Regions from separate parts of the Homo sapiens genome. Here region 2 is linked to region 1. A link means that fine-mapping ties the variant in region 1 to the expression of a gene that starts in the linked region. Tissue or cell type: whole blood. Region 1 holds a variant in brackets; the other region holds the start of a gene. All regions are shown on one strand. Distances are from middle to middle. Region 1 overlaps LINC02988 (long intergenic non-protein coding RNA 2988). Region 2 holds the start of PLEKHO1 (pleckstrin homology domain containing O1).

What was found.
Region 2: it holds the start of PLEKHO1, and the variant in region 1 is fine-mapped to the expression of PLEKHO1 in whole blood (TOPMed, PIP above 0.99).

What each region holds. Positions count from the first base shown.
Region 1 is chr1:150,178,408-150,182,793 of GRCh38, reverse strand. LINC02988 (long intergenic non-protein coding RNA 2988) reads right to left here. Exons shown (of 4, transcript NR_135098.1): 4 at 1,566-1,882. Among named protein-coding and RNA genes, the nearest start is that of LINC02988, 20 kb to the right of the region's middle. The variant C/T (reference allele first, on the strand shown) is at 2,091.
Region 2 is chr1:150,147,850-150,152,235 of GRCh38, reverse strand. It overlaps PLEKHO1 (pleckstrin homology domain containing O1), which reads right to left and starts at 2,320. Exons shown (of 6, transcript NM_016274.6): 1 at 1,949-2,320; 2 at 1,178-1,324. The coding sequence starts at 1,978. RefSeq lists silencers at 2,013-2,092, 2,233-2,692 and an enhancer at 1,880-2,380.

The DNA of each region.
Region 1 (4,386 bases):
ACTCCACACCCTGAAGAGTCCCTTATTGTTGATTCCCAGGGTTGAGGACTGAGTTTTTTTTTTTTTAATTAGTACTGGTTTCTATGGGATGCAAACTTTTCTCTAATAGCTGAAAGCAGAGGCTTCTGGGTGCTTTCAAATTTATTCTTTCTTCACGGTTTTAAAAGAGGCCCTTGCCTCTTCTGTGTGTCGTTATGCGTACTGGAGTGCAGAATAGAAAATGCAAAACAAGAGAGCCGTACAGGAGGTTTTTCTTTTTAAAGGAGTTGATAGACAAATGGCACAGAGTTCACTGTTCTCGCCAGCTGAGAGTTTAGCTTCCAGAAAGCACTACTTTAGGGAACAAGTGAAGCAGTGTGGAGGGCCTGAAAGGCTTCATTGACACAGCAGCCGGGAGGCTCTTGTAGCACATTGTCTGGGGTGCGGTGCCTTCGGAAACCAGCTCTCGAGATGTCTACACCCCCAACATCCCCAACGCTGAAAACATTCGGGTTTTTTTTTTTGGTTGTTTTTGCCATTATACTTGGTTTTCCAAGTGAGATTCCTGAAAAGGTATTTGCTTTTATTTGTTTTTGTTTATTAGTTTCCTCTGGGTGTCAGTCAGTTCTTCACATGGTCACTTGGCTTACTTGGTAGGAACGTGGGGGATCTGGGTGGTGGGGCCGAGGCAGTTTCCCCAACAAATCACTGGTACGGCATGAATGCGTTTGTTTTCTGAATGAGAATCTAAGTGCTGCCACAAAAAAGGCATGCTGGGGTAGAAGAAATAAGGTGAATTTGAAGCCGACAATTGAAATCATTATTGATAGTTTCCTAGTTTTCCTGAAGGTTGATCTGGAGAGATGGAAGTCTAAGCTAAGGAATAATAGATCTGTATCAGTGAAGTTGTAGAGTCACTTGTAGGCTCTGAGGGTCTGTCCCAGGGAAGATACAATGATCCATGGTGTGTTGGTTTGGTATAGAAATGCCAGGGCCAGGCAAGCTCTTCATCCGTGGTTTTTATTCAGGTATTAATAGAGCTCCTAGTATGTGTCTGGCCTTGAGAAGGGATGTGGCTTGTGTTTCTGCACTTTGAGGAGTTTCGAGTCATAAACCCATAGACCACGGAAGATCCTTAGAGATCGGCAGTCCTCCTCTTACCCTGCAGGAAGCACCAAGGCCCAGAACATTGGCTTGCTCAAGGTTACACAGAGAGTTAGTGGCGGCCTCTTGAGAGGCCAGATCTTTTTTTTTTTTTTTTGAGACGGAGTCTTGCTCTGTCGCTCAGGCTGGAGTGCAATGGCCCGATCTCGGCTCACTGCAACCTCCGCCTCCCAGGTGCAGGCGATTCTCATGCCTCAGTCTCCCGAGCAGCTGGGATTACAGGCGCCCACCATGACGCTTGACTAATTTTTCTATTTTTAGTAGAGACAGGGTTTCACCATGTTGTCCAGGCTGGTCTCGAACTCTTGAGCTCAGGTGATCCGCCCGCCTCAGCCTCCCAAAGTACTGGGATTACATGCATGAGCCACCGCGCCTGGCCTGGAAGCCAGATCTTTTTACTCCCAGTTTGGTATTTTTCCATTCAACTACCGTTGAAAACGCCTCATAGTTGTTAGAGAACAGTTCCAGAGAATATATAATTCAGTGTTAAATTGAATAATCAACTGTTACTGCATAGGGGGAGAGTTCATTGTTCACTGGAACTATCTGGAAGTGTGACAGATTTTGAAGAATGGGAATGGTGTGGACATTCCAAAAGGACCAGAAACCTTGTCTCTGTTCTGTGTTGTTTGGGGATGTCCATGAAGAAATGTATAACCCTCAATCCAAGTGTGAAGCCTTTGCACATGCTGTGGGAGCAGGCGTGTTCAGGGAGTGCCCCTGCTGAGCATCCTGCAGACTGATAGGGAGAGAGACATATTGTGTAGAGACCACTTTCTCCCCAAGCAAAACCAAAGCAAGGTGGGGTGGAGGACCCAGGGTGGGAGGGGAAGTGGAGTCCAAGTGATTTACAGGTTTTCATTACACATTTGAGGATGAACCTAGGTCGCTAGAACTTTGACTCAATGACAGAAGGGGCCTTTGTGGAGGTCTTGATGTAAAAAACA[C/T]GAGTCACCTCTCAGAACTTCTGCATAGCTGCTAGAAGTTAGTTCTCAACCTTAAAGTTCCTTCTTTTTCTAGAGGATCGCTGAAAGCAAAAGTAACAATCTAAACCATCTGCCACTTAAATAAGAGGAGATTTATTGCTTTTAATAGAAAGGATGCTTGTTCCAACAGAAGGGTATGGCTCAGAGAAGCAAGCCTGGCTGGGCACGGTGGCTCACGCCTCTAATCCCAGGACTTTGGGAGGCGGAGGTGCGTGGATCACCTGAGGCCAGGAGTTCGAGACCAGCCTGACCAACATGGCGAAACCCCATCTCTACAAAAAAAGACAAAAAATAATTAGCCGGGTGTGATGGTACACCTGTATAGTTCCAGCTACCTGGGAGGCTGAGGTACGAGAATTGCTTGAACCTGGGAGGTGGAGGTTACAGTGAGCCGAGATCGCACCACTGCACTCCAGCCCGGGCAACAGAATGAGACTGTCTCAAAAAAAAAAAAGAGGCAGCTGCGGCTTCATCTCTTTGGCCTTCCTGAGCATATATTCTGGTCACTGCTCTGCCGTCAAGCTGTGGAGTAGGGGGGATCCCTAAAGAGCAAACAGCAGGTATGAGTGTTAGAGACCAGAGACAGCAATGCTGATTCAGCGCATAAAGTTCACCAATGTGCAGTGTGGCTGGAGTTTAGAGCATGGGGCAGCCCTGAGGTGTCTATAAGGGGAATGGAGAGGAAGGACAAGGCCAAAGAAAGAAGCGACTAGGATCACAGAGGCCCTGTAAACCGTGTTAAAGAAGGTGGACTCTAACTCAAGGGCAGTGGGGACTATAAATATCAGATTTAAAATTTTAATTTTTTTTTTTTTGATATGGAGTCTTGCTCTTGTTGCCCAGGCTGGAGTGCTATGGCATGATCTGGGTTCACTGCAACCTCTGCCTCCCAGGTTCAAGCAATTCTCCTGCTTCAGCCTCCCGAGTAGCTGGGATTACAGGTGCCTACCACCATGCCTGGCTAATTTTTTCTTTTTCTTTTTTTTTCCGTATTTTTAATAGAGACAGGGTTTCATCATGTTGGCCAGGCTGGTCTCAAACTCCTGACCTCAGGTGATATGCCCGCCTCGGCTTCCTAAAGTGTTGGGATTACAGGCGTGAGCCACTGCGCCAAGCCAGATTTAAAATTTTAGATCACTCTAATTGCAGTGTGGGCATAAGAAACAGTAGAGTTAGTGACACTAATTAGAAGACTGTTGCAGTCGTTGGAGAGAGAGGGGTTGATGGCCTGAAACTGTAGAGGCAAAACCATGAGTAGCAATGTTGGCACTCAGGGCAAACAACTCAAAATTGACCTTCAAACAGCTCTGTAATGCAGGATACAGCCAGGTGTGACTGGTAATATGCCTTTTGATAGTTTTCAATTTAACCAAATGGTCTGGATAACCAGGTGTTTTTTTTTTTTAAACAATTATGTTTTAAAGGAAACATGCCCCTTGAGATTATGGAATTCAGGAGCAAAGCACAGTCCACTCCTGTAGTTGGGCTGGGGCAGAGGCAGTGGGAAGGGGGTGGTAATCAGATTTGGGAGATACTTAGGAAGTAGGGTGGACAAGTAAAGCTTTTGGTAGAAAAACATGTTTAGTTAAAGTTGTTTTTGTTTTGTTTGAATTGAATTAGTAATATATGCCATGGTAAAATTCAAACAGCACTAAAGGAATACAATGAAAAGTGTCTCCTTAACCAGAGTCAGCCATTCTTAACAGTTCTTGTGTATTCTAGAGCTTTTTGTGCCACTGTAAGCCTATGTTTAATATTTATTTTTTATAAAAATTGGAACATACTATACACCTTGCTCTTCCCTTTACTAATTCACTTAACATTATATTTTGGCAGTCTTGCTATATCTATTTTTGGTTTGTTTCTAAAGAGACAGGGCCTTGGTCTATTGCTCAGGCTGGATTGCAGTGGTGCAATCATAGCTCACTGTAACCCCAGACTTCCTCCTGCTCCTGCCTCCAAGTAGCTATAACTACAGGAGTGTGCCACCATGCCCATCTAATTTTTAAATTTTTTATAGAGATGGGCTCTCCCTATGTTGCCCAGGCTGGTCTCAAACCCTGGCCTCAAGTGATCCTCCTGCATTGGCCTCCCAGAGCACTGGGATTACAGGTGTGAGCCACCATGTCCTGTCTACTTTGTTCTTTTAATAGTCCATTGTTTGAATGTGTGCTCTCATTATTTATTTAAACTAGTCTCCTTTTTTTTTTTTTTTTTTTTGAGACAGGGTCTCGCTGTATTTCTCAGGCTGGAGTGC
Region 2 (4,386 bases), 31 kb after region 1:
TGGCTGTGGCACAGCTTAGTTCTTCCCTAGATGCCTCAGTAGATGTTCTTTTAGATGAGTACTTTGTCTCAGGGTGTGTGTGTGTATGTTTCAATACCATAAAAGGTTTTATTTACCTAAATATAATCTACTGAATAAGGATGTCTACTGCAGAAAGCAGAAGAGGTTAGAACTCAGGGAGGACTTCCCAGTTAGCCCTGGGTGAGGGAACACAGAATACCTCCCGTGAGGGCGGGAGGAAGGGCCACTCTAACCGGTACACAGGACAGTCTTCCAGGCTATACTGACTGCCTTTGGACAGTCACAGAGGCAGGGAATGGAATGACTTCTAACCACTGTAGGGGCAATTCTGATTTCTCCACATTAGTACACGTTATTGATCCCAAGACTTAGGGAAAAAAGGGAGATGGGTCTGGATTCAATTATCATAGCTCAGGTCTTGACACAGTGTAGACTGTGGTTTTCATGGTTAACTACACAGCCAAAGCTATCCAAAGACATACAGGGGTTCTTAACTCCATTTCTCTCCCTTCTGATACAAATGGAGGGGTGGGCAGGAAGTGGGTAGAAAATGGGTTCCTTGCCTTTTTTAAATGGGGTGGGGGTGGGGAACAGAGAGCATACTGGTTAGGGACACTGGCTTCAACGAAAATAACTGCCACTCACACACCCGAGGTCACAGGGGCCTGACGGCGGGGTGCGTGTTTTCTGTGATTCAGGGCGGATGCGCCACGGACAGGACCTGTGCACGCTCCTGCCACAGACAGGAAAGGGGAGGCTGGCTGGGTTAAGGTGGGGGGACAGGAAGGGGTGGCGAATAGGCTAAACTGTTTCAGCAGAAATAGAAAAGAAATCCTATATGCAGGAGGCCAGGTTAGGGTGGGAGGCAGCAAGGGACACTTAGAACTTCTGGGGCATCTTGGGAGGGGCTTATCGTTGTTAGAAAGGTATTTGCAAACAAAAAAACACTGAGTAAGCGGCCAACTCAACTTCTAATTCTCACTCTGGTCTTCTCATTAAAGGGTGGCCTTTCTCTGCAGATGAGATGGGGGTAGAGAGGAGACCACTGAACTTGCCTTTGGAACAAAACGGGGGTGGAGTAAGCTAGGCGAGCCCTTGGGGAGTGACAAAGTGGGGGCTATGAGAAAACGGAGAGTTAGAGGCAAGAGGCACCCACCTCCTTCTCAGAGATGTAGAGCTGGTCCCCTTTCAGCACCACATAGCGGTTTTTCCAAATCTCCCTGAAAATCCCTTTCCCGCAGAATTTCCGGACCCAGCCGACCTTCTCGGGCGGTGCAGGCTGCTGGTTTCCATCCTGAGGTCCCTGCCCCAGGACAAGATGAGAAGCGGGCGGTTAGGAGATTCCAGCCGGCGCTTCCTCTCCGTCCGTCTCTCACGACCGCCTCGGCGGCCCAGTCTCCTCCGAAGGCTGCGGCCGGGGGGCGGGGGGCCGCCCCAGGTTCGCTCCCACTTCGGAAAGGTTTTCACTCCGAGGAACTCCCCCCGCTCCCCTCCCCCGCTCCCGAATAAACAACCGGGGCTGCAAGTGGCAGGGGCGCCGGCCGGGCGCGGAGAGGCTCCCAGGTTCCCTCCAGGCCCTGCGCCCCCGCCGCCCCGTCCTCGCCGCGCGGGGACTAACGGCGTTTCTCTGGTTTTCTCTCCCATTGTCTCCTCGCCACGGCGGAGCGCGAGGCAAACGCTCGCCCGGCGCCCGGGGGCGGGGGAGGTGCGGGTCGTGGGGAAACTCAGCCAAGTTGAAGCCCCCCGAGGCGAGTAAACAAACAAAAGCCCCCGCGGGCGCCTGGCGGGGCCGAGGCCGAGGGGACCGGGCCGCCGGGGCGGGGGCGCGGCCGGGCCGTGGGTCTCCCAGGCCGCCGCGGCGCCGACGGAGCGGGGGTCGTCAGAGCGCGGAGGCGGCGGCGGCCGCAGGGCGGGCAAGCGCACTCACCCGCTTGGCGGAATTGTTCTTCTTCATCATTCCCAGCGGGCGCGGGCGCGGGGCGGCGAGCCGAGGGGCGGCCCCGCGTCGGGGCCTCGGCGGCACCGCGGGGGCTCCTTCCCCGCGGGAGGGCGTCGGAGCTGCCCCGGCGCCGCCGCTCCTCCCTCGCGCCCTCCCGCTCCCGGACTCTCCCCTTCTTTGTAGCTCCGGTTTCACTCAAGGCCGGCCTCCCTCGCATTCGCACTCGCACACACACGCACGCCCGCTCCCCGCCCCTTGGCGCCCTCCATCCCGGCGCCCACGCGGCCCGGGTCCCCGAGCGCACCCCCGCCACCCGCCCGCCCGGCCCAGCGCGGCCGCTCCCCCGGCCCGGTGCGCTGTGGGCGGCCCAGTCCGCACCCCGCAGCTCCATCCGCGGGCCGCTGACGTTGCGAGTTCAGAATAAAGGGCGAATCGCGGAGCCGCAGCTCGGGCGCTCCCCCCGCCCCCCCGCCTTTGTTTCTGACTCACGGAGGGGGAAGAAGGCGGCTTCGAAGCGGCTGGAGACCGCTCCCCAGGGGGCAGGGACCCTCGCTCCGGCGGCGGCTCGGGCGACACGCGGAGCCCGAGAGACCCGGCCGCCGGCCGCCCCGGGGCCCAGTGGGCGGGCGCGGTGGATAATGGAGAGACGTGCGGATTCGTGAAGACTGGAGATCGCCAGCCTCTACAGCATCGCCTTACCCGACCAAAAACAAAAACGAGAGCGGGAACCGGGAGGGCGCGCCACCCACAACCCGCATCAGGAATTCACGCTCCTAGGTGCTAGGGTGGCCTGGGCAGGTCAGATGCTGGGGGAAAGTTTTATGCTCCGGAGGGGATCGACGTGTTGGGGGATGGGGTGGGACAGAAGTTGCTATTAATACACGTTTCTTCCAGCGTACAATGCCTCAGGCCTTATTGTAGCTTCAGGAGAATAATCCTAAGGATGAGGCGGATTTTATGATCTCCATCTCACAGGGAGAAAACGGAGACTCAGAATAGCTGAGGGATTTGCAGACACAGTGTCGATGCTGGCTTTTCAGACACAGTGTCAATGCTGGCAGGAATAGAACTCTGTCTCCAAACCATTATCCTTTCTACCAAGTGGCTTTCAATATAAGTTCCAGGTGAGGCTTAAACTTCCTGCCACCTGGGTATCTTTTCCCGCTATACTGATAGGTAAAAACCCCACCCTCTCTACAGCGCTGGAGCCCAGTGGAGGGAAGGGCTGAACGCCCAGAGAATGCCCTGACTAGAGAAGCCTCTGCTGATCCCTCCTACAGCAGATCTGCCTCAGAGCCTCCAGGACACATCTTAGTAACTTCATGTCTTTTTAATATATATACGTGTGATGGAAAAGGGGAGTGAGAAACCCCGCGCTTGGGTACTGGTTTCATCACCACTCTGGGCTTTGGTCAAGTCACTGAATTTCTTTAGGCCCGCGTCCCTCCACGTATTAAGTGGTGAGGGATGAACTGCCATTTTTATCAACAAGGAAAGCTAGGGGAAGATATGAGATGACCTCTGAGAGTCCTTTGAAGATATGTGTTGTCTTCCAGGGCTAATTTTGAAATCATAATAAGCTAATAAACACATTGCCTGGCATATGGCAAGCATGCAGTAACCACAAAATGAATAAAAATCCCTGGCACTGAGGAGCAGGGAAAAGGAAAAATCATTTTTCCAGAGATGTCTCAAGATAAAAGTGTTGGCTAGATTTGTGGTTTGAATAGTGGAGGCTCTTTTGACTTTTTCTGGTGTCTGTCAAATGAAGGAGGGGCTCCCTCTCTTTTCCAGTTCCACCTTTCCTCCTAATCCAATGATATTCCTCTCAACTTCTTTCCATTCACCATACCAATTAATTCCACGATTTTAGACTGACACAGAACTTTATCCTTTCAAAATGCTCTTATATGTCATTTCTTTACACTTTTAATGCCACCTTGTAAGGTATATAGAGTATTAATATTTCCATTTGGAAAATGAGGAAACAGGGCATGCCAGATAAACTGACTTGCCCAAGTTTATACATCAAGTTACTGGCTAAATGGATTAGAATCCAGGCTTCCTGACTGCAGTCTCCTCTTCAGATTTTGTAACCCCCTCCCATGGGCATGAGTGTGCACACACCACGTTCCCCAAACCATCTTGTCCCCTTTCCACCGTCTCTATTTTCTAACCCCCTGTTTAAAGAGCGATGAAAAAATAATGAGCAAATCCAGGGTGTCTTCATATGTGAGGATGCAAAATGTCCAAATGTACTGGTGAGCAAATAGCCTGCACGATTTTTTGAGGGCTTGCTGGACAAACACACAGGAGTGGTTTAGAGTTATCATTTAAATAGATTCTGATTTATGGGAAAAAAGTAATTCATCATTTGCCCCATCTTCCTCCTTTCCCAGTAGTTTCTATCAGTCAACAAATATTGG